4 linked regions of the Homo sapiens genome follow. The protein of the gene in region 1 interacts with the protein of each later gene in a pairwise test. Each region holds a gene or a part of one and is shown in the gene's direction. Other genes may lie near its edges.

Evidence for each region.
Region 2: the proteins of AKAP8L (region 1) and MYPOP interact in binary tests that used the Homo sapiens proteins (3 or more experiments, as listed by UniProt).
Region 3: the proteins of AKAP8L (region 1) and PITX1 interact in binary tests that used the Homo sapiens proteins (3 or more experiments, as listed by UniProt).
Region 4: the proteins of AKAP8L (region 1) and DGCR6 interact in binary tests that used the Homo sapiens proteins (3 or more experiments, as listed by UniProt).

Annotation. Positions count from the first base shown.
Region 1 is NC_000019.10:15,415,211-15,423,165, reverse strand, and holds the start of AKAP8L (A-kinase anchor protein 8-like), read left to right. Parts: upstream 1-4,177; 5' UTR 4,178-4,242; coding exon 4,243-4,255; intron 4,256-7,955. Other genes in the region: protein Wiz, read left to right, coding at 1-90. UniProt on the Homo sapiens protein: Could play a role in constitutive transport element (CTE)-mediated gene expression by association with DHX9. Increases CTE-dependent nuclear unspliced mRNA export.
Region 2 is NC_000019.10:45,892,016-45,899,793, reverse strand, and holds part of MYPOP (myb-related transcription factor, partner of profilin), read left to right. Parts: intron 1-4,161; coding exon of another isoform or gene 4,162-4,172; exon of another isoform or gene 4,173-5,325; intron 5,326-7,514; coding exon of another isoform or gene 7,515-7,624; intron 7,625-7,778. UniProt on the Homo sapiens protein: Transcriptional repressor; DNA-binding protein that specifically recognizes the core sequence 5'-YAAC[GT]G-3'. Dimerization with PFN1 reduces its DNA-binding capacity.
Region 3 is NC_000005.10:135,027,078-135,031,850, reverse strand, and holds the end of PITX1 (pituitary homeobox 1), read left to right. Parts: intron 1-342; coding exon 343-575; intron 576-2,529; coding exon 2,530-3,072; 3' UTR 3,073-4,117; downstream 4,118-4,773. UniProt on the Homo sapiens protein: Sequence-specific transcription factor that binds gene promoters and activates their transcription. May play a role in the development of anterior structures, and in particular, the brain and facies and in specifying the identity or structure of hindlimb.
Region 4 is NC_000022.11:18,901,376-18,909,631, forward strand, and holds the start of DGCR6 (protein DGCR6), read left to right. Parts: upstream 1-4,944; 5' UTR 4,945-4,999; coding exon 5,000-5,109; intron 5,110-5,189; coding exon 5,190-5,350; intron 5,351-8,256. UniProt on the Homo sapiens protein: May play a role in neural crest cell migration into the third and fourth pharyngeal pouches.

The DNA of each region.
Region 1 (7,955 bases):
ATCCTGGAGATGAACTTCTCCAAAGCGGACCCCCCACCTGAGGAGTCCCAGGCCCCGCAGGCACAGACAGCGGCGGCAGAGGCTCCCTAACACAAAAGCATTCCAGATCCCCTCTCGTGCCACCTCTGTCTCCTCTTCTTCCTCCTCTGTGTCCTTGTCCCTCTTCCTCTTTCTTTCCGTTTCCAAAGGAGCAAGCCAAAACCTCAAACCGGCGCCCCTTGGGGGCCGGGCACACTACAGCCAGGGCGCCGGGAGCCAGCTAGCTGCCCTTCCCCCAGCCCGAGGACTCTGGGGCCACAGGGTGTCTTCCTTCAGCCCATGCCCACCTGGTCCAGCAGGGGCAGCAGCCAGGTCTCTGATGGCAGCCGGTCTGGTCACAGGGGAGGACAGCACTCCCCCGTCTAGCAGCCAGGCAGGGCGATGTCTGCCATCCGTGGCCATTTGCAAAGACCCCAAAGACCCCTGTTCTGGTTCCCTCTCTCCCCCATGAATATCCTCTCACACACATGTACATGCGAACACACACAACACGCACCTCGTGAGACCCGGGACCTGCCCCGGACCCCCAGTTCCTGGGTTGAACGACCACATCATGCCACGGTGCTTGCTCAGGGGAAGCCACGCTCCCTCTGTGGGGCCTGCTGGGGCCTGGGAGCCCCCCACTGAGCCCACAATGCCACGGAAATCCTTGTTGGCTGCCCCCGAGAGGGGCCTTCCCAGCTGGGAAGAGCTCAGAGCTGACAGCTGCCTCCTGCCATGTCAAGGCCCCCCAAAGAGCCTCAGGGGCTCTGGGGCCCTGGAGGGTGGGGTTGGGGGGTGGGACTCTCCTCCCCCACTCCTGCTCCCTCTCCCTTTTCACTGTTGCTTTCTATGTATAGCTCCCTAGACCTTTCACTTTTTTAAAAACGCGTTTTGTGTAGAGAATAAGGAACGTGGATCTTTTTATTTTGCAATCCTGGGCCAGCTAGAAGCCAGGAGCTGATTGACCTTTTAACTTTTTTCAGTGGCCACATTTTGGTTATCGATGTACCTAGAAGTATGTAAATTAGATTAAATTTCTCTTCTGGAAACACCCTGGGGCAGGCGGCCAGCGTGTGTTTTTCTGTCAAGTGGACAGGCTGGCATTGGCTGGCAGCCGGGGCTGGGATCGGGGCCTCCTCTGTCCAGAGCGCCATGGAGGCCCTGGGTTTTCCAGTTGGCCGCCAAGCCGACCAGACGCAGCTGGGGATGAGCCCAAGTTCCCAGCTGTTGGCTCTTTAGGCCATGGCTGGGAGGGGGTCTCTGGCTGGCTGGCAAAGCGGCTCCAGTGAGCAGATGAACCAGGGTTCTGGGCAGCCTGTCTGGGAAGGGAGCCAGGATCAAGAAGCAGTTGAGGCTAGAGGAGCTTATCAAAGGCAGGAGCTACCAGCGAGGGTGTCAGGGACCCGTTGGGAGCATTTGGGTGGGGGCCAGTGGGGTTGTAGAGAGCTGGAACTCACCTGCTTTTAATACATGTGACTTCTAGTGAGACACATGCACCCCTGACCCAAGGAACATGCGGGGAAAAGAGGAGCCACTGGCTCCTTTGCGATGTTATTTATTTTCTCGCTCTGCAAATGTTTATTGAACATTTCTGAGATTTTAAGAGATTTTGTTGGCTGCTCCTTCTTGTTTATTGCATGTGGTTTTTCAGCTCATCGTTTTTACTAAACGGTCAAGTGCTGGAGAGTGGGAACGACCTCATGGCGTGTGGACAGAAGGGGCCACCTCTACCCCCAGCCCTGCTTTCTGGGCCCTCCCACCATACCCCTTCCTGGGAAGGAGGGATTAACAGGCTGCAATAACGCCCACAAGGGTGGTCTTGGCCCACACGTCTGCTCCTGTGGGGTCAGGACGCACATCTCGCCTGGTGGCAGAAGGCCGCAACCACTTCTCTCCATCCTGTGCTGTGGGTGGGTGGATGTATCCAGGACTTAGGAAGCAGGGAGAGCATCTTGTGAGCTGACTCAAAGGTGTTTCTTCCTCTTTCAACTTTTCATAAGTCAGTTTTTATTTTTTTATTTTATTTTTTGAGACAGGGTCTCATTTTGTTGCCCAAGCTGGAGTGCAGTGTAGGGACCTCGGCTCGCTGCAGTCTCTGCCTCCTGGGTTCAAGTGATTCTCCTGCCTCAGCCATCCAGGTAGCTGGGATCACAGGCATGCACCACCACCCCTGGCTTATATCTGTAATTTTTGTAGAGACGGGGGTTTCACCATGTTGCCCGGGCTGGTCTTGAACTCCTGAGCTCAAGTGATCAGCCTCCCAAAGTGCTGGGATTACAGGCGTGAGCCACTATGCCCGGCCCGTAAGTCAGTTTTTGAAATATAAAAGTGGTATAGGCTAGATGTGACAAAAAACAGTCAAATGATACAAGAGCTTATAAAGTCATATGGCAAGTTCCTCCCCACCAATCATGCAGTGAAGTGAGGGTCATGTGTGTCCTTGGAAGAGTCACCTCCAGTTCTTGCAGGGGGATGTTTTCCTAAAACTTTCTGAGCATTGCTCTTCTCTGCTCAAGCCACTTCAATACACCTCAGGCAGCAAAGTCTCAGCTTTTGAGCCGTGGTCTCTGAGGGTGTTGGATGTGAACGAAATCAAATCGGTACAATGATGACTGTGGCAAGTGCGATGAAGGAACGAACCTGCAGGGCGCAGAAGACGTGTCCTGGGGCCCTGCCTTGGTTTGGAAGACAGGCAGGCATCCCTGAGGCTGATGGGGAGATGAACCCCGAAGCCAGAGTGCTTATCCGTCAGATCTCTGCTTCATGTTTGGAGTTTGCTCACTTAACACATCAGAAGTGGCTTTGTTCCGTATGGCAGCAAGTTCTGCAGAAGCCTCATTTGGGTGGGGGGAGTTTTATTAAAACAGTTTATCATGGAGAATTCCAACTATACAAAAGTAGAGCAAACAGTAAAATGGACTCTCATCTATCCATCACCAACCCATGACCAATGTCTTCAGCTGTCAGAGATTTATCTTATAGCTCCTTGCTTCCTCCTCCTCTCTCTACCTGTCTGAATTGTGTGAAGCACATCCTGGCCATAAGATCAGTTAACTTCTTAGTATTTCAGTATGTTTCTCTCAACGTTGTAAATGCCACTATTACACCTAAAGAAATCAACAATATCAAAAAGAAACAGCATACCTTAAAAAAAGTTTTAAAACACACGAAGCGTAGAAGTCGTAATTGCGCAGCTTAATGAGTTTTCACAAACACACGTGTTAAGTACTCTTCGGTGCAGCTCTGTCATCTCTAGAAATTATGAGTTGTCCCTGGCAGGGTTTCCATATGCCCAGGAAACAGACTGAGGACATGACTGGTGCCCGGCTGCACTATTGCAGGATCTCTCGAGCCCAGAGTGAATCAGGAGGGTTTTAGAAGCAAAGCTCCCATTTTAACACGTAACTGTCAAGGACCTTGAGCAAATCATGAGTTCCAAGCTTCAGTTTTAAGTGAGGATTAAAAGCTTTTTGCAGGTTTGAAGGAGCATTCGAATGACACACAATACAAACGGAATTATTACACATATAAGCATATGCCATATAAATATATTATCGTTTTGTTACGATTAATCACATTTATTCAGTGCACTGGCACCAGAATGATTTCTTTACACACACTTTGTCACGTAATGTTGAAACGTGTGTCCAGCATCTTGTTTGGTGCTGTTTTAATTTTCTCTTCTCAACATGGCTTTGCTATGCTTGTTTTGGAGCCGAAGGCCAGAGAATTTGAGAGACTTAGCTAGGTCCCCTACCCAGCACCTCGGTGGCGGAGTTGGCATCCCAGCCCTGCCCTGAGCCGTAGACCCGACTCCCTCTGGCGGGTCTCCAGGGTACGGGCGCTCCTCCAGCCCGACCATGCTTGGGCCTTGGGCCTTTCCGTAGTGCACAGCTCCGCCCCCTCAAATTCTATAGGACTCCGCCTCTCTGCCGGCTTCTGTAGGCCAATCACTGAGGCCTTAGAATAACAGAAGGCGGGGACAAGGCGGGGCTCTCACGAGATTGCCAGCAGCTTCCAGCCACTGATATGAGGAGGCATAGAGATAGACAGCGGTTCCTTCCAATAGACGTGAAGCCGAGGCCGGTATGAGCCAATGCGGTCGGGAGGCGGGGCTCGGGTGTGTGTGGAGGGGACCCTGTGGTTAGCAGCAGCTATCGCAGCGTCGGATGTTCAGAGCAGCAGAAGCCGGCGTCGTCGGATGTTGTGTTGCCCGCCACCATGAGCTACACAGGTGGGCCTGGCAGGGTGGGGTCGGGCTCTGCGTGGGGGATGGGACAGGGACGTGCGGATGCCGCACCAGGCTTGCCCGCACCTCCCCTGGGGCCCCGTCACTGCCTTCCCTGCGGTCACAAAATGGCGCCGCTGGCCCGTCGCCTCAGGGTCGCTGCCCTCACGCCTCGTTGCCTCAGCTCTCTGTGTCTGCAGCCGGCGTCCCGGCTCCCGGCCGCCTGATGTCTTGGCTTCTGTCGCCTGTGTCCGTGGGTCCGGGCCTCAGCGCACGAGGTCTCCGCCCCCACCACCTCCGTCCCTGGCCTGCGCTCCTGGACCTCGACGCCTTAGGTTTCCCTTTCTCAGGCCTTGGTCCTTGCGAGCAGGCAGCAGGCTCGGCTGCCGTCGCCATTGTCGCGTCCTCCCCCGCGCAGTTTCTCTGCAAAAACGCCGCAGCTCTACACCCCCATCCCGATCCCACCCACCACCCCCTTTTGTCTATTTCAGAACTGGGAAAGGCGCCAGGCCCTAGGGGGATAAGTAAATATTGGAAGGGTTTGGGCTGAGCGGGGAGCCTTGGGCCCCTAGGGGCTGAACTGCAAGGAATGACAAGGTTCCATGTTAATTCCCTCTGCGTCTGTCAAATGAACCGTGTCCGGTACAGACTGGGTATTGGGAATACAGACAAGAATTCCTCAAGCAGCTTAGAGGCGAGGATCTTAATAGGCAAATAAGCGAGTGTAGGATATATTTTAGGGTGGTCAGTACCGTGCGGGGGTCGCTCCACTACGTGGAGTGGTTGGAGCCTTCTGTAAAGAGGTGACATTTGAGCAGAGACCTAAATGGAGGGAGCGAATAAAGATATCTGGCCCAGGGAGCTTTTGCTGTAAAAGGCTTACGGGCAGGAACTGCCTGGCTTGTTAGAAGATCAGCCAGGGAGGCCAGTGGGAGGCCAATGGGATTTGAAAGGGAGAGTGGGTGACAGATCCGAGAGCCCCTCTCCGCCCCCCGCAATATGCTTGGGCGACTGTAAATCATCACTGGGTGAATTGCCAAGGCCTCCTGGGTTTGCCTTGGCAGTGACTGATGAGGCTTCTCGGCCAGGAGACTTACACTAGGCCTCCCTGTTTGGTGAGGGTATTATAGGCTTGAGCGTGTGTGGTTGCCAGGTAACCTGCATTCTACTTGGAATTTTGAGAACTGAGAATGCAACGTGAGTCTGTGGGGCTCCTTTGTAGACCACTTTATGTTGGCATAGGCAAGAAGGTAGTGCCAGTCCCCTCTACCCTGGCTGCCAGGTCAGGAGCTTTCCAAGAACCCCAGTTTTTCTAGCAACCATCCCCCAGCCCAGTGGGTTCTCATCCAGGGGTGATTCTGCCCCAGATGACATCTGGCAATGTCTGGAGACATTTTTGGTTGTCACATATGGGAGTGGGAGTGCTGCTGGTATCTAGTGGATGGAGGTTTGGGATGCTGCCCTGCTACGGTATACACAATGACACCTACCGCAAAGAAGTATCTGGCGTCAAACATCAGTAGTGCCCAAGTTGGGCAGCTCTGCCAGAGCCTTTCTGTAGCTTTCCTAGTTCAGGAGGAAAGACTATGGGGTTGTTACTGACATCCCTGGGATTGGAATATAATTCTCACCAAGTCTTACCAAGAACTGGAAGACAGTTTCATGGTTTTTAAAAACAGGACTCTTGAAGAAACCAGAAGATGAATGGTTGGGTGCTGTGGGGTAGCTGAGTAATGGAGCTCTTTTTTTTAATAGATGAGGAAACTGAGATACAAGGTCACTAATGACCAAACCTGAATTCCAGCTCTAGGTCTTGTAGGCTGTAGTTCTGGGTTTGGGTGGGCACTGAGATAGCCAAGCTAAAAAAGTAATGATTAGTTTTTCCTTTATCTTGATAAACTGAAAACCACAGTAATTTACAATGTGAGTCTTCCCCTTATTTAAGAAGTAGGGCACTAAAGTCAAAGGCATTTTAATTCACATTTCAGACAACTAATAGCTTTAAGGGTAAGTCCTAGAGGCCTCGAAGCAAATGTTAGCATTATTAAACATAAAAGGTGACTGATAAATCTTTTTATTAACTCGCCCTGCTTTTGAACCCTGTTACCTTATTTATACGTGGGAAAGGAAGCTGCATCTCTAGCACTGAGAGGGGAAGAGGAGAGCAGTGGTAAACAGCACAGAAATATCCAGAATCAGGCCCTCAAACAAAGGTCTGAAATGCTACTGTACTTGTCATAGAAACATTTATTGTCTCACACAGTTTCTTTATGTTTGGAATGGATAGGTGATTTCACTGGGTGGTTCTAGCTTGGAATATCATGAGGTTACATTTAGGATCTCTATGTGGACTAGAGTCATCTGAAAGCCTGACTGAGGCTGGAGGTCCCACCTCCAAGGTGACTTAAACTCCCATGCCTGGCAGGCTGATGCTGGCCAATAATTCTTGGCCCCATGGATCTCTCCCTAGGGCTGGCTGCTGGAGTATCCTCACAACATGGTGGCTGGTTTTCTCCAGACTGAATGATCCCAGAAAGAGCAAGGCGAAAATCCCAGAAGTCACACTCAGTCATTTTCATAAATCTTATTGGTTGCACTGGCTAGCTCTATTAGTTGGGAGGGATCTACATAACGTTAAGAGGCAGGAATGGAGACCATCTTTGAGGATGGTTGTCACCCTACTCTTGGCTCAGATAATAAAGATTGAAGGCAACCTAACCTAATTCCAGTTATCTTTTAATTTTTGGTACTCTGTGTTACTCCTTCAAATAAGACTCTTTTTTTTTTTTAGATCAGGCACGGTGGCTCACACTTGTAATCACAACACTTTGGGAGGCCGAGGCAGGAAGATTGCTTGAGGCCAGGAGTTTGAGATGAGCCTGGGCAACATAGCAAGACCCTTTCTCTATAAAAATTAAAAATAAAAAAGTTAGCTCTGCGAGGTTGAGGCTGCAGTGAGCCATGATTGTGCCACTGTGCTCCAGCCTGGATGACAGCGAGACTCTGGGATTTTTTTTTTGTTTTTTTTTTTGAGACGGAGTCTTGCTCTGTCACCCAGGCTGGAGTGCAGTGGCGCCATCTCGGCCCACTGCAAGCTCCGCCTCCCAGGTTCATGCCATTCTCCTGCCTCCGCCTCCCAAGTAGCTGGGACTACAGGTGCCCGCCACCACACCCGGCTAATTTTTTGTATTTTTAGTAGAGACGGGGTTTCACCTTGTTAGCCAGGATGGTCTTGATCTCCTGACCTTGTGATCCGCCCTCCCTGGCCTCCCAAGGTGCTGGGATTACGGGCATGAGCCACTGCGCCCGGCTGACTGGGAGGTTTGCTGGAGCCCAGGAGTTCAACATTGCTGAGCTATGATCATGCCATTGCACTCCAGCCTGGGCAACAGAGCAAGATCCTGTCTCAAGAAAATATATACTCTTTTTTAAAAAGGAGAAAGGAAAAGTATAAAACTGAGAAGCATTTGTTTTGTTTTGTTGAGACAGGGTCTCACTATGTTGCCCAGGTTGGAGTGCAGTGGCACAAAATCATAGCTCACTGCAGCCTCGCCCTCCTGTGCTCAAGTAATCCTCCCACCTCACCTCAGCCTCCCAAGTAGCTGTGACTACATGTGCATGCCACCATGCCTGGCTAATTTTTTATTTCTGAGATGAGGTCTCACTATGTTGCCACGCAGGTCTTGAACTCCTGGGCTCAAGTGAT
Region 2 (7,778 bases), about 30 Mb from region 1:
TCTTGGCTTGCTGCAACCTCCGCCTCCCCAGGTTCAAGTGATTCTCCTGCCTCAGCCTCCTGAGTAGCTGGGATTACAGGTGCCTGCCACCATGCCCAGGTAATTTTTGTATTTTTAGTAGAGATGGGATTTCACCATGTTGACCAGGCTGGTCTGGAACTCCCGACCTCAGGTGATCCACCCACCTCGGCCTCCCAAAGTGCTGGGATTACAGGCCTGAGCCACCACGCCCGGCCTGGACTTGCTCTTGAGGGCATTCAGGAGGCATGAAAATCTCCTAAGCAGGAAGGTGACACAATCACATGGGACCCTTGTTCTCAAACCTTGAATCAAACCTCAGTGTTTCCATCTGTGAGATGGCCCCATAGGACCAGAGCAGAGATGGCCAACTTATTTTTTCAGAAACTTGTTACCACTTCATTCACTCGTTTAGCAAATATATATTGAGAACCTCATCCAAGGCAGACGCTGTGGTAGGTGCAGGGAATAATGTAGAGAAAAAGACAAAATCCCCTTCCCTTATGGAACCGACATTCTTTTTTTGTTTGCTTGTTTGTTTGTTTGTTTGAGACTGAGTTTTGCTCTTATTGCCCAGGCTAGAGTGAAATGGCGCAATCTCGGCTCACCGCAACCTCCGCCTCCCAGGTTCAAGCAATTCTCCTGCCTCATCCTCCCGAGTAGCCGAGATTACAGGCATGCGCCACCATGCCTGGCTAATTTTGTATTTTTAGTAGAGATGGGGTTTCTCCATGTTGGTCAGGCTGGTCTCGAACTCCCGACCTCAGGTGATCTGCCCGCCTTGGCCACCCAAAGTGCTGGGATTACAGGCGTGAGCCACCACACCCGACCTGGAGCTGACATTCTATGTAGTTGGAGGAAACAGACCACAAAGAAGTCCCAAAACAGACTGTATACCAGGAGGTGGTGAGAACTAAGAGGATAAATAAGTCATATTCAGAGGATGGTGAGTCATGGAAGGGGGCTATACAGACAGGGTAATCAGGGAGGGCTTCTCTGAGAAGGTGAAATTCAAGTAGAGATGGGAATAGAGTAGGCCTGACAGACATCTGGGAGAAGGGCACTCCTGCTAGACTAGAGGAAACAGCACGTGCAAAAGCTCTGAGGCAGGAACACGCGTAGAGCATCCTCGATTAGAATCTTACACAGGCCTGGCCAGGCACGGTGGCTCACGCCTGTAATACTAGTTCTTTGGGAGGCTGAGGCAGGTGGCTTACCTGAGGTCGGGAGTTCGAGACCAGCCTGACCAACATGGAGAAACCCCGTCTCTACTAAAAATACAAAATTAGCCACGCGTGGTGGCGCATGCCTGTAATCCCAGCTACTCAGGAAGGCTGAGGCAGGAGAATCGCTTGAACCCGGGAGGCAGAGGTTGCAGTGAGCCATGATCGCGCCATTGCACTTCAGCCTGGGCAACAAGAGCAAAACTCAGTCTCAAAAAAAAACAAAAAAAAGAACCATACACAGGCCTGGCATGGTGGCTCACGCCTGAAATCCCAGCACTCTGTGTAGTACCAGCTCACACACTCATTTACAAGTAGGGAAACTGAGGGCCAGCTGCGGTGGCTCATGCCTGTAATCCCAGCACTTTGGGAGGCCAAGGCGGGCGGATCACCTGAGGTTAGGAGTTCAAGACCAGTCTGGCCAACATGGCGAAACCCCGTCTCTACTAAAAAATACAAAAATTAGCTGGACGTGGTGGCACACGCCTGTAGTCCCAGGTACTCAGGAGGCTGAGGCTGGAGAATCACTTGAACCTGGGAGGTGGAGGTTGCAGTGAGTCGAGATTGTGCCACTGCACTCCAGCCTGGGTGACAGAGCGAGACTCCGTCTTAAAAAAAAAAAAAAAGAAAAGAAAACAAGTAGGGAAACTGAGATCCAAAGTTTGCAAATAAATATGATTTTAACTTTTAAACAGTGGAAGCCAGGCACAGAGGCATGCCTGTAATCCCAGCACTTTGGGAGGCTGAGGTGGGAGGATTGCTTGATCCCAGGAGGGCAAGACCAGCCTGGGCAACAAAGTGAGACCCCATCTCTACAAAATAATCCAAAAATTAGCCAGGCATGGTGGCCGGCGCCTTGGTCCCAGCTACACATGAGGTTGAGGCATGAGGATCCCTTGAACCTGGGAGGCGGAGGTTGCAGTGAGCCATGATCGCACCACTACACTCCAACCTGGGCAACACAGTGAGACCCTTCCTCAAAACAACCAAAAACAAACTCTTGCAGGGGCACTGCTGTGACTCCTGTGAGCCTTGTGGGCATGAAGGCTGGGCTACTTTCTGTTCCTTTTTACTCAGTAGACTGGAAAAGCCACGTTTCTGCAATTCCCACGTTCCTTATAAGGAAGATTTGTCACTCACACCCCAGGCCCACAGCCCTTGCCCAAGGAATGGTTAGGAGCATGGACTCTGGCCTGGTGTGGTGGCTCACACCTGTAATCCCAGCACTCTGGGAGGCCGAGGTACACGGATCCCTTGAGGCCAGGAGTTTGAGACCAGCCTGGCCAATGTGGTGAAACCTTGTCTCTACTAAAAATACAAAAATTAGCCAGGCATGGTGGCATATGCCTATAATTCCAGCTCCTCGGGAGGCTGAGGCAGGAGAATTGCTTGCACTGGGAGGTAGAAATTGCAGGAAACTGAGATTACGCCATTGCACTCCAGCCTGGGTGATGGAGTGAGCCTCTATCTCAAAAAAAAAAAAAGGCCATGGACTCTGGCCAGGAGCAGTGGCTCACACCGGTAATCCCAGCACTTTAGAAGGCCAAGGCGGGAGGATCATTTGAGGCCAGGAGTTTGAGACCAGCCTGGGCAATATAGCGAGGCTCCCATCTCTATAAAACAAAAGAGGCCGGGCGCGGTGGCTCACGCCTGTAATCCCAGCACTTTGGGAGGCCGAGGCGGGTGGATCATGAGGTCAGGAGATCGAGACCATCCTGGCTAACAAGGTGAAACCCCGTCTCTACTAAAAATACAAAAAATTAGCCGGGCGCAGTGGCGGGCGCCTGTAGTCCCAGCTACTCGGGAGGCTGAGGCAGGAGAATGGCGTGAACCCGGGAAGCGGAGCTTGCAGTGAGCCGAGATTGCGCCACTGCAGTCCGCAGTCCGGCCTGGGCGACAGAGCGAGACTCCGTCTCAAAAAAAAAAAAAAAAAAGAATGGACTCTGGAGTCAACCTGGGTTCAAATCCCTTTTCTGCATATCACTCTATGACACCTCTCTCTGAGCCTCAAATCACCTCATCTATAAAATGGGGCGATGATCATGGTAGCACCTACCCCAGAGAATGGCTGGGAAGACTAGGTGGAATCACTTAAGAGGGGAGCTTAGCCCAGGGCCTGGCGGGAGCAGGTGTCCTGTCACTGTCCGCTCTACTCATCTGTCTCCCAGCCTCCCTACCTCCTGCTGGTGGCTGGCCCAGGGAGGCTGGACTCCCAGCAGTCAGGGTAGGAGGTGGCTGATTTGTTTGCTTGCTTGTTTGTTTTTGAGACAGGTTCTTGCTGTCGCCCAAGCTGGAGTGCAGTGGTGTGATCTTGGGTCACTGCAACCTCGGCCTCCAGGGTTCAAGCGATTCTTGTGCCTCAGCCTCCCAAGTAGCTGGGATCACAGGCGTGCACCACCACACCCGGCTAATTTTTGTATTTTGAGTAGAGACAGGATTTCACCATGTTGGCCAGGCTGGTCTCAAACTCCTGACCTCAGGTGATCCGCCTGCCTGGGCCTCTCAAAGTGCTGGGATTACCGGCTGAGCCACCGCACCCGGCCTGGATGGTTGGTTTTTTGTTTTTGTTATTTTTTTTTTCTCTATCTTCTCTCTTTCTTTGGCTGGCTGTTTTTGAGAGAAGAGCAGGGTGATCTGATTTGGCCAAGGAGCAGGAGGCCAGCTTCCCCGAGGAAGGAACATCCAAAAAAACATCCAAGCTGATGCAAGAGGCAGTGTGAGCCTGGCCCAGGGAACGACATGTGGGAAGACAGGCGGAGTTGGGGGCAAGTGCTGAGGCCCCATAGCCGTGGGAAGAGGCTGGACTTTCTCCTGTGGGTGCTGGGCACTCTGGGGCCTGGGACCCAATCAGCGCTGAGTCTCTGGAAGCCCCAGTTCTTTTCTCGTTAAAGAAAAAATGTTGTGCTGGACATTGTTCTAGGCGCCGGGTAAACAGAAGGGAGCAATACAAAGCCCTGCCTGATGGAGCTGACATCAGGAGGAGGAGACAGACAGCAGACACAGAGCCATACCGTGCCAGGTGGAGATAAGTGCTGGGAGAGGAATCAGGTAGGGTTAGGGGAGAAAAAAAGAAGGAGATGGGGCCAGCCTGAGCAACATGGCAAAACCCTGTCTCTACAAAAACAAAACAAAAATTAGCCAAGCGTGGTGGTGCACACCTGTAGTCCCAGCTATAGCTACTCAGGAGGCTGAGGTGAGAGAATCGCTTGAGCCCAGGAGGCAGAGGTTGTAGTGAGCCGAGATTGCACCACTGCACTCCAGCCTGGGCGACAGAATGAGAGTCCGTCTCAAAAAAAAGAAAAGAAGTAGGCCTGATGTGTTTGAGGATCAGCAAGGAGGCCACCGTGGCTACAGCCAGGTAACCCAAGAGGGAGGGATGGGAGCTGAGGTCAGGAAGGCAATGGGGGAAGATCGTGCAGGGCCCTAGAGGCCTCAAGGACTTTGCTTTTACCCTGAGTGAGGTGAGAGCCACAGGACGGTTTGAGCATAGAAACAATATCTGACTTGTGTTTTTTTAAACAATTATATTGCAATATAAGGCCGGGCGCAGTGCTTACACCTGTAATCCCAGCACTTTGGGAGGCTGAGGTGGGTGGATCACGAGGTCAAGAGATCGAGACCATCTGGCCAACATGGTGAAACCCCGTCTCTACTAAAAATACAAAAATTAGCTGGGCATGGTGGTGTGCACCTATAGTCCCAGCTACTCAGGAGGCTGAGGGTGGAGAATTTCTTGAACCCTGGAGGCAGAGGTTGCAGTGAGCCGAGATCGCACCACTGAGCTCCAGCCTGGGCAGCTGAATGAGACTCCATCTCAAAAAAAAAAAAGAAAAAAGAAAAAAATGTATATATATATGGCGATATAATTTCCACACTATACAATCACCTCAAAGTGTACGATTTGCTTGAGACCAGGAGTTTGAAACCAGCCTGAGGAACATAGTGAGACCTCATCTCTACAAAAAAATAAAATTATCCTGGTGTGGGGTCGCACCTCTGTGGTCCCAGAAGCTCAGGAGGCTGAGATGGGAGGATCGCTTAAGCTGGGGAGATTAAGGATGCAGTGAGCCGAGATCTCACCTTTGCACTCCAGCCTGAGCGAGAGAGCAAGACTGTGTCTCAAAAAAAGATGAAAATTAAGGCCAGGCACGGTGGCTCACGCCTATAATCCTAGCACTTTGGGAGGCCAAGGCAGGTGGATCACAAGGTCAGGAGATTGAGACCATCCTGGCTAACATGGTGAAACCCCGTCTCTACTAAAAATACAAAAAAATTAGCCGGGCGTGGTGGAGGGCACCTGTAGTCCCAGCTGCTCGGGAGGCTGAGGCAGGAGAATGGTGTGAACCCAGGAGACAGAGCTTGCAGTGAGCCGAGATCACACCACTGCACTCCAGCCTGGGCGACAGAGCGAGACTCCGTCTCAAAAAATAAAAAATAAATAAAAATTAAAAATAAAGTGTACAGGATCAGGCGCGGTGGCTCATGCCTGTAATCCCAGCACTTTGGGAGGCTGAGGTGGGCAGATCACGAGGTCAGGAGATCGAGACCATCCTGGCTAACACAGTGAAACCCCGTCTCTACTAAAAATACAAAAAATTAGCCGGGCGTGGTGGCGGGCGCCTGTAGTCCCAGCTACTCAGGAGGCTGAGGCAGGAGAATGGCGTGAACCCAGGAGGCGGAGCTTGCAGTGAGCTGAGATCGCGCCACTGCACTCCAGCCTGGGCGACAGAGTGAGACTCCCATCTCAAAAAAAAAAAAAAAAAGTAAAATAAAATACAGCGTACAATTCAATGGCTTTTAGTATATTCAGAGTTATGCAACCATCACCACGATCAATTTTAGAACATTTTCATCACTCCAGAAAGAAACCCTGCACCTCTTAGCCATCCCCAATCTCCCATCTTCCCTGTCTTCCCCCAGCCCCCGGCAGCCACTCATCTACTTTCTGTTTCTATAGATTTGCCTTTTTTTTTTTTTTTTTTTTGAGACGGAGTTTCGCTCTTGTTGCCCAGGCTGGAGTGCAATGATGCAATCTCAGCTCACTGCAACTTCTGCCTCCCGGGTTCAAGCGATTCTCCTGCCTCAGCCTCCTGAGTAGCTGGGATTACAGGCATGCACCACCATGCCCAGCTAACTTTGTATTTTTCGTAGAGACAGGATTTCTCCATGTTGGTCAGGCTGGTCTCAAACTCCCAACATCAGGTGATTTGCCCACCTCAGATCCCAAAGTGCTGGGATTACAGGCGTGAGCCACCACACCCGGCCTATTTTTATTTTTGAGACAGAGTCTCGCTCTGTTGCCCAGGCTGGAGTGCAATGGCACGATCATGGCTCACTGCAACCTCCGCCTCCCGGGTTCAAGCGATTCTCCTGTCTCAGCCTCCCCAGTAGCTGGGATTACAGGCATATGCCACCATGCCCGGCTAATTTTTTGTATTTTTAGTAGAGATGGGGTTTCACCATGTTGACCAGGCTGGTCTTGAAGTCCTGACCTCAGGTGATCCACCCGCCTCGGCCTCCCAAAGTGCTGGGATTACAGGCATGAGCCACCACATGCGGCCAAATTTGCCTATTTTGGACATTTCATATAAATGGCCCCTGTGATCTGTGGTTCTTTGTGACTAGCTTGTTTCCCGTAGCCTAACTGACTTGTATTTTGGTTGGACCCCTCAGGCTGCTGGTGGAAAAAGATACTGTCAGGGACAGGGGTGGAAGCAGAGAGCCCTCAGGGAGGCGATGACTGCAGTGGTCCTGGTGGGAGATACTGGTGGTTGGGCCAGGGTGGGGGACCAGGAAGAAAGAAGTTGTATGTATTTAATTTGAAGGCAGAGACGATAGCTTCTGTATGTGGATGGTGTCTTAGTAAACAAAACAGTGAAGGTGTTTAACCTGAGCAGCTGGGAGGATGGAGCTGCATCAGCTGAGATGGGGGTGGCTGAGGAAGGAGCAGGGTGGGGGAGGATCAGAAGCCCAGCTCCGAGCAAGTGAGTTTGGGGCGTTTTTCGACAATTGAGAGTACACAGCTGGAGACAGGAGTCTGGAGCCCAGGCGAGAGGTTCAGGCTGAGCCCAGGAAGCTGGGAGCCCCTGTATGCAAACTGTTCAAGCCCATGAGCATGAATGAGACCCCAGGTGAGTACAGACTGAGGAAACCTACCAGGCTGGGGGCTGAACTGGAAAATCCTGCTGTCCTGGTTGGAGAGAGTCTCAGGGAAGTGTCCACCAGTGCCCAGACACCCCAGCTCTCTCCCAGACCTCTCTCTCACTTCCTCAGGATCCAGCAGTGTGGTGCAGTATCCATATAGTTCAGAACCTCGTCAAATGTTGGCCCTTGTCCGAGCGCAGTGGCTCACACCTGTAATCCCAGAACTTTGGGAGGCCGAGGTGGGTGGATTGCTTGAGGTCAGGAGTTTGAGACCAACCTGGCCAACATGGCAAAACCCCATCTCTACTAAAAATACAAAAATTTAGCCAGGCGGGGTGGCGCCTGCCTGTAATCCCAGCTACTTAGGAGGCTGAGGCAGGATAATCGTTTGAA
Region 3 (4,773 bases), on another chromosome or scaffold:
TTCGCAAAACAAACAAACAAAAAGCATACATTTGCTGGGAACATCAGCAGCAGGGTCAGAATCTGAGCCGAGCTAAGGGTGCAGGCCCTGCCCAGCCAGGAACGCAGGCCCGCGGCTCCAGCTCCGATTCTTGGGCTCTTCTCCGCGGCACACCAGACTAGAGGTGCCTACTGACGACCAGCACCCGGCGGGCGCTTTCCAGTGGGGACAGTTCCCAGGAACCCTAGAGGGAGGGAGGGAGGGAAGACCGCCAGCGCTGGTGGCGAGCGGTTCGGTGGAGCCGGGACGGGGTGCAACGGGGCGTAAGCCCAGGTGACCCGCTCCCCGTCCTGCCTACTGCAGAGAAGGAGCGCGGCGGGGAACCCAAGGGGCCCGAGGACAGTGGTGCGGGAGGCACGGGCTGCGGCGGCGCAGACGACCCAGCCAAGAAGAAGAAGCAGCGGCGGCAACGTACGCACTTCACAAGCCAGCAGTTGCAAGAGCTAGAGGCCACGTTCCAGAGGAACCGCTACCCCGACATGAGCATGAGGGAGGAGATCGCCGTGTGGACCAACCTCACCGAGCCGCGCGTGCGGGTGAGCAAGGGGTGCGCGCCTAAGGGCACCCGCGCAGAGGGCTCCCGGGCCGCCTCTGCTGCAGCCCTCCAAAGCTTAGACCCACAAGCAGAACTTCACTCTCCCACCATTCAGACCTGCTCCCTCCCTCCACCGGAGATCCCCACCTTAGGCCCTGGCCCACTAGCGTCTGCCAGGCCTCCAGGCGCCTCGGACCTTCAACCCCTTTGACCCTCATCCTACCTGATCCTCGGACTAAGGCAACCCCAGCCCAAAGACCTGTGCCCCCAGGGGACTCCCCCATGCCCTATGGGGCCCAGGACCCACTCAGATGTTAGCAGGATACCCTGGGCCAGAGACTGGGCAGTGGATTCCCTGCCGCTGGGGACCTCGGGAGCTGTTGGCCTTATCCCGAAAACGAAAGGGAAAGGCAGGTCCTGTCTGGCTGCCTCGGAGAAGCCTGAAAGGTGCCTGGGTTTGGGGCTCTCAAAACTTCCTGGAGCAGTGGTCCCATCTCATAAGCAGATTCTCTAAAAGCTCAAGATATTCTCCACCCTCCCCAGCCATCAGTAGGACCCTTTGCCTTCTGCCCTTTCCGGAAGGTCTCCCGTCAGGTGAGGTGGGGGGTGGCTCCGGGAGCCAAATGTCCTTCCCAGTCCCTTTTAGGATATGCCATCTCAGACCCAAGACCAGCCTGCATTCTCCCTCTTCTCACCCGTTTGGTTTCCAGTAAAAGCAAGGCTTTCCTGCCAGGGTAGCAAGAGAATCATTTCTTCCCTGGGGGCGTAAATATTTAATCAGATATTGGGAGCACCTCCCAAGTCGACCAAAATCCCAGCTGGCCCACAGACTCCTTACCATAACCCCAGCCCTCACCCCTCCCTAGGCAGGCTGGCCAGCCCAGTGGGACTTGGAATGAAGACACAGCACTCAGTAATCCTGAACTCACTAATCCTGCCCAGGTTTATGGTGGTAGGGGTGGGTGGGGGTGGAATCAGGTAGTGTCAGTGCTGGGGACTAGGGAAAGCTGAGAAGCAGGGATCTGGCAAACTAGCTCAGGAAACTCCACTCAGAACTGGAGGAAAATCCGAGTGGGCAGAGGGCATGCGGTAGGCAGATAGGTAAGGATGGGGGAGGACTAGGAGGTTCTTACCAAATTTGGGGGGAGAAAAGGAAGGGCAGGAAGATTAGAAGAATCTAGTAAGAATAGAAAAAATTTAAATATTTGTGGAGAAACATATTTGGCATATATTTAGGCGGCAGGAAAGAAATTAAATAGGAAGCAAAAAGATCAGGTATTTGAGAAAAAGAATCAACTGTTTAAGGGGAACAGTGCAGGTCAGATATTTGGAAAGGATTCAAAAGCCTAATATTTGAGGACGATTCAAAAGGATCAAAAATGGGGGATAAACAAGAAAACAGACTGAGGGAGAAGAAAGAGGTTCAGACAGTGGGGTGGACTGAACGAAAATAAACATTTGGAGCCAAAAAGAAAACATCAAATATTGCCGATAAAGATGATAACAAACTATTTGAGCGATGAAATAGATCGAAGAATTGGGGGAGTCGGAAAGTCCTATGTCTCAGGGAGGAAAAATACCTTTTGTATTTGAGGGAGAATAAAAAGACTGAAATATTTAGTAGATAGAGCGAACCTGTTTGGGGGAGAAGGCAGAGGTGAACTGGTTGAGAGAGGAAGAAAGAAAACGAATATCTGTTAAACGAGAATCCGTATTCGGAGAAGAAAACGGATATAATTTCGGGAGAGGATAAAGATCGGAAAAAGAAATTAGTATTTTCTGGGGACAGGAAAGGAACCATTGTGGAGGGAATGCAGGAGCGGAAATATCGGTCGAAGGAGAGAAACGACGTTCGGAGGGCAGCGGGCCGACGGAAGGCTCCAGGCGGTGGGGAAGGGGGTGGGGTCCCTCCCGGCCCGCAGCGGCCCTGACCCTTCTCCCGTCCCCTCCCCCAGGTCTGGTTCAAGAACCGGCGAGCCAAGTGGCGTAAGCGCGAGCGTAACCAGCAGCTGGACCTGTGCAAGGGTGGCTACGTGCCGCAGTTCAGCGGCCTAGTGCAGCCCTACGAGGACGTGTACGCCGCCGGCTACTCCTACAACAACTGGGCCGCCAAGAGCCTGGCGCCAGCGCCGCTCTCCACCAAGAGCTTCACCTTCTTCAACTCCATGAGCCCGCTGTCGTCGCAGTCCATGTTCTCAGCACCCAGCTCCATCTCCTCCATGACCATGCCGTCCAGCATGGGCCCAGGCGCCGTGCCTGGCATGCCCAACTCGGGCCTCAACAACATCAACAACCTCACCGGCTCCTCGCTCAACTCGGCCATGTCGCCGGGCGCTTGCCCGTACGGCACTCCCGCCTCGCCCTACAGCGTCTACCGGGACACGTGCAACTCGAGCCTAGCCAGCCTGCGGCTCAAGTCCAAACAGCACTCGTCGTTTGGCTACGGCGGCCTGCAGGGCCCGGCCTCGGGCCTCAACGCGTGCCAGTACAACAGCTGACCGCCCCGCCGCACCACGCGGGCCGGCGGCCGGAGCGGGGAAGGGCGCGGGCGCGGGCGCGGAGGACGCACGCGGGGCCCCGGCTCGCAAGCCCCAGCTCACCGCGCCGCGGACCTCACACCTGCGCAGCCCCCTCCTCCCACTTCCCACTCCGGGTTGGTTTTGTGTTTGCTTTTCCGGACCCCACTCTGCCCTCCAAAAAGACAAAAAAAAAAAAAAAAAAAAAAAAGCAAAAAGACGTCGGAGAAAAGTGCCGCGAAAAAATGGATGAGTTGCAATTTCTCTCGGGATGGCGCGGGTGGTGTGTGTGTTCCCACGGGCCCCGGAGGCCCACTCCGCGGAGGGCACGCGGCGCGGTAGGCGAGCGCCGAGGCCCAGCGGCCGGGGGAGGACGACCTCGTATCCCGCGTCCCCGCCGCGCTGGATCCGGACTGAGTGGCCGGGCCTGCGGACTGGATGTGCGGGGCCTGGACTTGCCTAGGATTTCCCGACCCCGTACAAACCAAGTTGCCCTCTCCGAGCTAGGCCCGGCCGAGAGCGCCTTAGCTCGAGTCGGATCCGTGTTGGGGCGGGCGTTGGGTTTGGGGGGACGGTGCCCCCAGCCCAGGATCGGGCACTCAGTGGAGCCGCACACGGCCCCGGCGCGCCTGGTAGAGCCTCGCTGGCCCCGCGCCCCGGAGCCCTATATTAAGGCCACGGAGCGACAGCGGGCAGTGCGGGCCTGGCGGGAGGTGGGGGAGGTCCATCTCAGAACACCCCAGCCTTGAGCTTAGCTGCAGGCCCAGGCCCTCTGCTCTGCTCCCGGGCTAGGAGGTGGCCCTCTGTCTGGGCGAACAGCCCCCTCCTCACCGCCCGCCGTGCAAGAGTCGAGCCGGCAGAGCAAGGGGCGCGGCCCCAGGGCCCTGCGCCCACTTTGCACACCCGCTCTCCGGCCCGCGCCCCTGTTTACAGCGTCCCTGTGTATGTTGGACTGACTGTAATAAATCTGTCTATATCGACTTGTCCATGTACGTCTATTAAAACCATAGTCCGAGCGTGCTAAGCACTGCTGAGCCCCGACTGCTTCATTGGGCTGAGGAGGGAGGCGGATAGAAAGGGAACTGTGGGTAGAAAGGGAACCGGGCCCCTTGGGTAGGAGCAGAGCGCCGAGGCAGCCCCCGCCGAGGTCTGCCTACCCCGCTTCCCCACCACCATTCTTGACCTGCTCAGCCTGGCTCCCATGAGGGCACCGTCCTGCGTTGCGAGCCTGTCCGGTGCGCACCCGCTAAGCTGTGCCTCTCGGCGTTGTCCGCGGGACGCCTTAGCGAGAACCCCCTCCCTCCGCGGCTGCGGGACTCTACGGGTTTCTTCCCAGGCCGGGTCTGCGGTGACCCTCGAGGCCCCAGGGTGCTATGGGGCCCTTGCCTGCCAGGAGCGTTCGGGCAGGGGCTGCTGAGAGCCTCTTTATGCCTGGGGTTGCCTTTTCTTCTGTGGGCCCAGCAACAGCCCCTCTTCTCTCCTCGGAGCCAGGGCCAGGCTATTCCAGGAGGACTGAGGGGGCTGGATCTATCAGAGTATAGCGAGGGCCTCCCGCTGCCTTTCTCCCTAATGCCCGCAACGTGCCGAGAGCCCACCGAGGGGCGTGCGGCTGTGCAGGAGAAAGTGTCCGTCACACAGGACTCACTTCTCACTTCCAATCCATCCCAACTTGTGGGGACTGCT
Region 4 (8,256 bases), on another chromosome or scaffold:
GAGAATCACTTGAGCCCAGGAGGTCAAGGCCGCAATGAGCAGTCATTGTACCACTGCACTCCAGCCTGGGTGACAGAGCAGGATGCTCTTTCAAAAATAAACATAAAAGTAAATCTAATGAGCTCTAGGATTTCTAATTTGAAGATAGAAGCGATAAACAAAATAAGAAACCAAAATACATTCTGTTTTGATTAAAGCAGAGGTCAGCCATAACTCTGAACCTAAAAAGGAGGTCACCTGAAGCAGCTGTGAGTAAGCAGGGTAAGATAGGAAGCAGAGAACCGATGCTCATTGCCAGATCTTAGGAAAAAAATAATAAATTAGGATGACATACTTTTGCAAAATTAAAGAAATCCCCTGAGGTGCTAATACAAAATTTCATTTGTGATAGGACTAATAAAGAAATTCAGCTAGTAGTGGGATCTGTCGTGGACTGAGTTTGATTCCAAGAACAGAAGAGGCAGGACCAGTGAGAAATAGCACAGACATATTTGCAAAAGCAGCCCTCCCACGTTAGGAAGAAGGGATACTTTTGCACAGTGAACAGCACTACAACTGCTCATGTCTTTCATGTACTATCACACATGGAATGACTGAGATAATCCTGTGTTCCACACATAGTCCTCCTCCCATCCCCCACCACTTAGGCAAGAGCTGTGCCCAGGAAATGTCACCCGTAACTGGTCTGCACAGACCCTGTCTTCTAAAAGGGTGCTGTGCCTCCACCAGACCCCATGAGCAATACATTTGTCAAGCACACGCGAGACATGCCAAGGCCAAGGCCTGACTGATTTGACAGTAAAGACACAATGAGCCCCTCTCATTCAGAGCTTATTACTCACAGAGTGAAAATAAGAGAAGTCTGAGGTGGCAGCTCCCTGCCATCCTGGTGCCACACACTAAAAAGGACAGCACCGAAACAAAAGGGGTCAGAGGGCATGCATTGCAGGACACCCAATGCAGAGGAGCCCCTTGAGACTGCAGCTGGGTGGTGTCCTCATCTGCAGCTCTGTTGTGAGGGCCAGGGGCAGGGCAGTGAGGAACCCTCACCAGGGCCAGTGAGGCAGGCAGTGAGGAACAGTCTTGGGAGACAGAGGAAGTGACCAGTGGCCTGGGTGCAGCCTGATGTTCTGGGAGGAGCAGGCTTAGGTCAGGTGCTGTGTGCACCTCTGTGTGGCCTATGGGGATCCTGCAATGGCTCAGGGTCTCACGGCAGAGCTGTTTCTCTGCCCACACAATGGACTCACAACCTGACACACGAAAATTCACAGAGAAACACAGAAAGGCACACGTGACACTCAAAGACAGACCCACACAAAAGCCATGCAGCAAAGCCTTTTGCCACACATGCACATGCACACACACACACACAGGCTCCCATCCTTTCAAACCACAGACTTGGTGTTTGCCCAGACACACCTGTGTCAGAGAAAGGGGATCTGCAGCTCCCCAACATACACCAGTCACTCCACACTAACCCAAGGTGTCACCAGCCAGCCTGGAGGACTTGGGAAGCTAAGTGGAGGTGGACAGTGGCCACAGAGCAAAGGCCTTCAGTGGATACCACCTGATGTAAAGAGCCATGGGGTCCACCATGTGCACGCACACAAGGGGCACACATGTCTGCGCACCAGCTCCCCCATTCCTACACACATATCACCCATCCCTAGGGCTCTGGGGGATGAGACCCCTCCCTGAAGACCCACAGGAGTCCCCATGCCTGAGTGACCCACTGCTCACGTCCATGCAAAAGAAAAGAACTTTTTATCTGAGGAATGCGAGACCCCTTTAATTATCTGGCCCAGAGAGTCACTGGACTGAAACAGCAGTCACATGTCACTCCCACTTGAGCTAACGACCTCTTGAAGCCAATTGCTCTGTGGGTTCCAGACTGACACCAAGTAGACATAAAAAGCCAGACGCTGGACACCATAACTCTTCCCCTGTAGTCCAACACCTTATAGCCAGTCACTAAGGTTCTCTCTGGAAAGCAGTCAGAATTCCTGCTGACTTCATATCAGCCCACTCCTTGTCCCCTTCAGTCTTTAAAAACTTGCTTGTAATAAGGCTGAATGAAGTACTCCCAGGGCAACTTGGTGTGTCCTGGGCAGCTCTCTCAGCCTTGGTCCAGACAAACTCTCTATATGAACTGTGGTTCAGTTTGTTTCTTTAGGTCGACATCCACATTAGGGGAGCAGTGCTGCTGGGCTGGGGAAGCTGGTTCAGGTCAGATGTTGCACCAAGGGTTGGAGAAGGGGCCTTCCTGCATCAGCACCCGGACAAGGCAGAGGAGCAGGTGTCCAAACCCAGGCCTGGTCTGCTGCTGCTGTGGCTCACAGCCCCCACCCCACCTGGCAGACCTGGCAGACCCCGGAGCTGGCGACAGTGTTGCCCAGCTGGCCACAGACATATCATCACGTGGGGCTGCCCTATATGCTCCCAGTCTCCACACAGACACCCTTCATGGACTGGGGGACTGAGGGCAGGGACACTGGTGAAACAGGCAGGCATCTTCACCCAGCTACTCATCCCACTCACCACCTCCGGGGGAGGTGACAGTGACCAAGCCCAGCCCCAGCTGGCTCCTGGTCACTCACTACAGACTCAGCTCCCACAATCTCGAATCCCACCTCCAGCTCCTGCCATTCCGAGGGACCTGGAGGCCAGGGTGCCCGGCGCATGACCAGCTCTGGGTTGTGGACCGCCCTCCACGGCAGTGGCCTGAGCGCTTGTTGTCATTATTCACTTTATTCACTCCTGGTTTCTGTCTGGAAGGGATCACAAAGACATGGCTTGCAGGGGAGCCAATCCTGCCAGGGACTGAGGAAACAGATCCTGGAGAAAACCAGAGACTTTGCTGGCACTTCAGGGGGACCCCAGTTGGCTCAATGCCCCCCTCTCCCCCATAGCCAACTGCTAACCAATGTTCTCTCTGGAAACCAGTCATAATTCCTAACCTGGTCAAAGCAGGGTCATCTCACACAGCCCAGCCACCCATTCTTTAGCACCGCAGGCAGCTAAAGAATGCCTGGTGAAATGCAAGTCTGATCGTGTCTGCGTCCCCAAGCCCTTCCGTGCCCCCTGCTGCTCTTTGGACAAGCCCCCAGCAGCCTCTGTAATGCACAGCACCCGCCCTTGTCTCCTGTGCTGGCTTCCGCAGCCTGGCCACACTGGTCCTCTCGCCCATCCACCTGACCTGACTCTGGCAGGGCCTTTGCAGGAGCCATTCCTCCACCCGAACCCCTCCTATTAAAACGTGTTCCTAGCCGGTTCAGCCCCAGCCTGTAGGGACCAGCCCCACATGGTCGGTGGGTCTCTCCCCGTGTGCCGCAACGAGAGAGTGTAGAAATAAAGACACAAGACAAAGAGATAAAAGACAGCTGGGCCCGGGGGACCACTACCACCAAAGCGCGGAGACCGGTAGTGGCCCCGAATGTCTGGCTGCGCTGTTATTTATTGGATACAAAGCAAAAGGGGCAGGGTAAAGAGTGTGAGTCATCTCCAATGATAGGCAAGGTCACGTGGGTCACGTGTCCACTGGACAGGGGGCCCTTCCCTGCCTGGCAGCCGAGGCAGAGAGGGAGAGGAGACAGAGAGAAAGATAGCTTATGCCATTATTTCTGCATATCAGAGACTTTTAGTACTTTCACTAATTGACTACTGCTAGCTAGAAGGCAGAGCCAGGTGTACAGGATGACTAGGCATAATAAAGGCAGACTAGGAGCGGGACCACTGAAGCACAGCATCACAGGGAGATGGTTAGGCCTCCGGATAACTGCAGGCAAGCCTGACTCATGTCAGGCCCTCCACAAGAGGTGGAGGAGCGGAGTCTTCTCTAAACTCCCCCGGGGAAAAGGAGCCTCCCTTTCCCGGTCTGCTAAGTAGCAGGTGTTGTTCCTTGACACTTTTCACTACCGCTAGACCACGGCCCACCTGGCAACGGGCATCTTCCCAGACGCTGGCGTCACCGCTAGACCAAGGAGCCCTTCTGGTGGCCCTGTCTGGGCATAACAGAAGGCTCGCACTCTTGTCTTCTGGTCACCCCTCACTGTGTCCCCTTAGCTCCTATCTCTGTATGGCCTGGTTTTTCCTAGGTTATGATTATAGAGTGAGGATTATTATAATACTGGAATAAAGAGTAATTGCTACCAACTAATGATTATTGATATTCATATATAATCATATCTAAGATCTATATCTGGTATAACTATTCTTGTTTTATATTTTATTATACTGGAACAGCTCGTGTCCTCGGTCTCTTGCCTCAGCGCCTGGGTGGCTTGCCGCCCACACCAGCCACCAGAAGCTCCCCAGCCCCGGCCCAGCAGCTGGTCTGGGGAGCGGGGAGAGGGCAGTCTGGGCTCGCGGTTCCGGCTGGGGGCTGGGCACCCCGGGGCGACCACGGCAGGCCCAGATGGGGACTCCGGTTCCAACTCTCCTGGCCCAGAGGCTCTAGGGTGGTCTTGTCTGTCTCACTCCGGGGGCAGAGAGGACGCAGACAGACCCCAACACCACTGCTCGGCCGCGATGGTGCCTTAGACCCAGGTCCTGTGGGCTCTGGCCCGAGACCCCTCCCTCTGGGAAGGCCGGTGACCGGGACAGTCCACCTCGCAGGCGCGCCGGCGCGGAGCCCGGACCTCAGCCCGCAATGACTCAGCAAGGGCCGGTGGGATTCTACATGGTCCTGCGATATCCAGGCGACGGAGTCTCGCCTCTAAAGTGGCCCGGGGAGCAGGAAGGTATGAGCCTCAGCTGAGCGAAACCCTCCTTGCAGCCACCACGGAGGGACGGGGCGCGTCTCCTTCTGAATGACGCAAGGGGCGGGGCGCGTGGTGGGGCGGGGAAGGCGCGAGGCGCGCCGCGATCGGGGACTGTCCTAAGACGGGCGGGGCGCGCTGCGCTAGGGACTGTCATAAAAGGGGCGGGACGCGCCGCGGTCGGGATGACGTGAGCTGGGGGCGCTCGTCGCTGCAGCCGGCGGCTAGCGGGCGTCCGCGCCATGGAGCGCTACGCGGGCGCCTTGGAGGAGGTGGCGGACGGTGCCCGGCAGCAGGAGCGACACTACCAGCTGCTGTCGGCGTTACAGAGCCTGGTGAAGGAGTTGCCCAGGTACGCGGGCGGGGCGGGCGGCGGCCTGCCGAGGCCGCATCGTGTCCCGCCGGGGCTCACCGCGCTCCTCTACCCCGCAGCTCATTCCAGCAGCGCTTGTCCTACACCACGCTGAGCGACCTGGCCCTGGCGCTTCTCGACGGCACCGTGTTCGAAATCGTGCAGGGGCTACTGGAGATCCAGCACCTCACCGAAAAGAGCCTGTACAACCAGCGCCTGCGCCTACAGAACGAGCATCGAGGTGCGCGGGGGCAGCGGGAGGAGGTGCCGCCTCCTCGGGGTCGGCGCCTCCCGGCAGCTCTTGGTATCTGTGCAGCTCGGCTCCTTCCTTGGGAGTGTTCGGAAGAGGTCCCTAAGATTAACAAAATCAAGGGCGCAGAGACTGAGACAGCGCCTTTTTGGTGACCAATGTGTCCAACGAGTTTTGTTTTCAGTTGCGCAGCACCCACCTTCTTAGCAGAAACTCCCTGTTCGGGCTTCCCTGTGCCCCACCCCCTTCCAGGCCTGATGGCCCTAGGCCTCCGTGCTTGGTTGGCCGGCAGGCTGACTCTGGTGGTAGATCTGACTGCGTTGCCCTCCGGTAATTGGAGTTCTGTTGACAGGTGAGCAGCGCCCTTGGGTAGTTGGAGGTCTGTTGACAGCTGTGCGCGCCCTTCAGGGTCAGTTCCCTCTCAGGCCTGCAGGGCCTCATTCTAGTTGCACATCAAATTCCTAAGCACTGTCTCCTGTGGCGCCCTCCCAAACCAGAAGAGCTTCCCACTTGAGCCGCATGCTTCCTGGGCTTCGGAGCCCTTTCCTGCAAATTATATAGGGCAGGTCCCCCTGCACCATCAGATTTCCACCTTTGCTGTTTTATTTTTCCCAAACTTCTTATTTTAAAAGTTCAAACATTTGGAAAAACTGAAAAGACAGTGTAGTGCATACGCTTGTGCTCTCCACCGAAAGTTCAGTAGTTAACATTTTGCTCTAGTTCTTGACATCCCAAAATACATACATGTGACAGCATAGAATTCACCAAGAGTCTTCAGCATTCCTGGAGACCAGGATTTTCAACCCAGCCATGCTGACATTTGTGGCTGGGTAAGTCTTTATGGTGAGATGCTGTCTTGCGCATTGCAGGATGGCAGGGGTACCCTCCCTAGTCGTGAAAACCAAGAATGCCTCCAGACAACCTGGGTGGTGGGGTCAACCTTGGCCTTGGATTGGGAGCAAGTGCTCTAGAACAAGAGCGGTCTCCTACACAGCTGCAGAGGGTAGCCCCCTGAGAAATTAACTGTTCCAGGTGTCTCCTGACTTTCAGTGCATGGCCACATCATGGTACCTAACTTGTGGCAAATTGTTGCTTTATAAGTAAGGATCCAGTCCAAGTTCATGTACTACAATTGGTTACTTTGGTCTCTTTGCTTCTGGAACAGTCCCCAACATTTATTGTGGCATTGACTTTTTATAGAGTCTAATTCTATAATTAGAATGCCCTGCTCTGGATCTATCAGAGGAAATGCTTCCTCGTGCATTTAACCTGCTTCTCCACTCTCTGGGTTTACTGTACACTGGACTCCTGGTAGGAGCCTGATTAGAGGCAGGTTTAATGTGGCAAAAATTCCTCCTAGCGGGGCAAGGCCCCCTTCCCCAGAAGGCAGGCAGTGTCCATCTGCTCCAGGATTGGTGTGTTTCTATCAAGAATGGATGTTGGATTTTGGCAGTTTCCTTTTTGGCAGCTCTTGAGATGATCACGTGGTGAATCATTTTCTATTACTACAGTGAATTACAGTCACTTGAATTCCATCCTACTGGGTCGTGCTGTAGTATCCTTTTTATGTATGCTGGATTTGATTTGCTAAAATCTTGTTAAGAATTTTTTTGTCTATGTTCATGATAAACTGTGGTCTATAGTTTTCATGTAATACCTGGTTTGGGTATCAGGGTTTTTGCCAGCCTTATAGGATGAGTTTCGAAGTGTTCTCTCCTCTTCAGTTTTCCAGAAGAGTTTGTGTAGAATTGGCATTACTTCTTCCCCTAAATGTCTGGGTGACTGTCTTTTTAAAAATTTTATTGAGCTGTAAGATGCATGCAGTTTACTAATCCCAAGTGCATGGCTCATTATTCCTTAATGCTCAGACTGTGCCATGTGTGGCCAGTTGGGGGCGCTCCAGGCACCTTTAGATGCCGCCCCATCATTCTGTGAGCACTTTCTTGCTTTCTGGTTCAGGTATGTGTTCAGGCTCATCTTTTCTTGTTTTCTCCGTGTCTCAGTCCTGGAATCGGCCATTTTTCCACAGAGTTGTAGTTCTTTCTAGCAGGATGGGGAGTTTCAGTAACTGCCTGGGCCCAATGCTGTTTGTGCTTCAGAAGGTTTGGGCCAGGTCCTGGTTCCACCAGCAGCAGGCATGCCTGCGTTGACTTTCTGCTTCTCCTGCTGATTTGGCAGGGGTGACTGGCTGCTCCTGCCTCCTTTGTGTTCCCGGTCGTGTCTAAGGCCAGGCCCCTTCTGCCCAGGCAGCCGGCGTGGCTCTCTTCTTGCCTTTTGGTTGCATATCTAGTGGAATCTCGTAGTGGACCTGGCACTTGTAGCAATGTTTGATCAGTAGAGTGAAGATGATGACATTTCCCTGCTTCCCTGTGTTATGGAGCTGTCTTGAGGGGGGCTTTTGGTAAATACCATCGTCGAGGTGTGTACAGAATGCCAAGAAACAGGAGATTGGGGAAGGCTGTAGGCACAGCTGGAGCCAGGCTACCTGCAGGGGAGCCTCAGGGGCCGTGGAGTTCCCTGGAGACTTGCCACCAGAGAAGAGCTGCAACATCAGGGCTCTTCCCAGGAACAGAGTGTTGGATTTCACGTTTTGTTGTGGCCAGGGACCCCTCCTTCCTGGGGAACTGTAGCCATTTGGCACTTAATGCACTGGCGCCAGCTGCGGGGTGCTCCATGTTCCATTTTGCCATGATGGTTTATGTCCCATGATCGCTTCCTCTGTACACTCCCTTCAGACTAGAGTTTGCACATCTGTGTTTGTGCACAGTTTAGCAGGGACCGTGGAGCTTTGCTTGGTGGCCGAGGGTGAGCCCCTCAAAGCCACACAGACTCCCTGGCCCAGAGCCTCACAGGCTTATGACACCCCAGGTTCATCCCAAACTTGGGCCTCCCAGGTC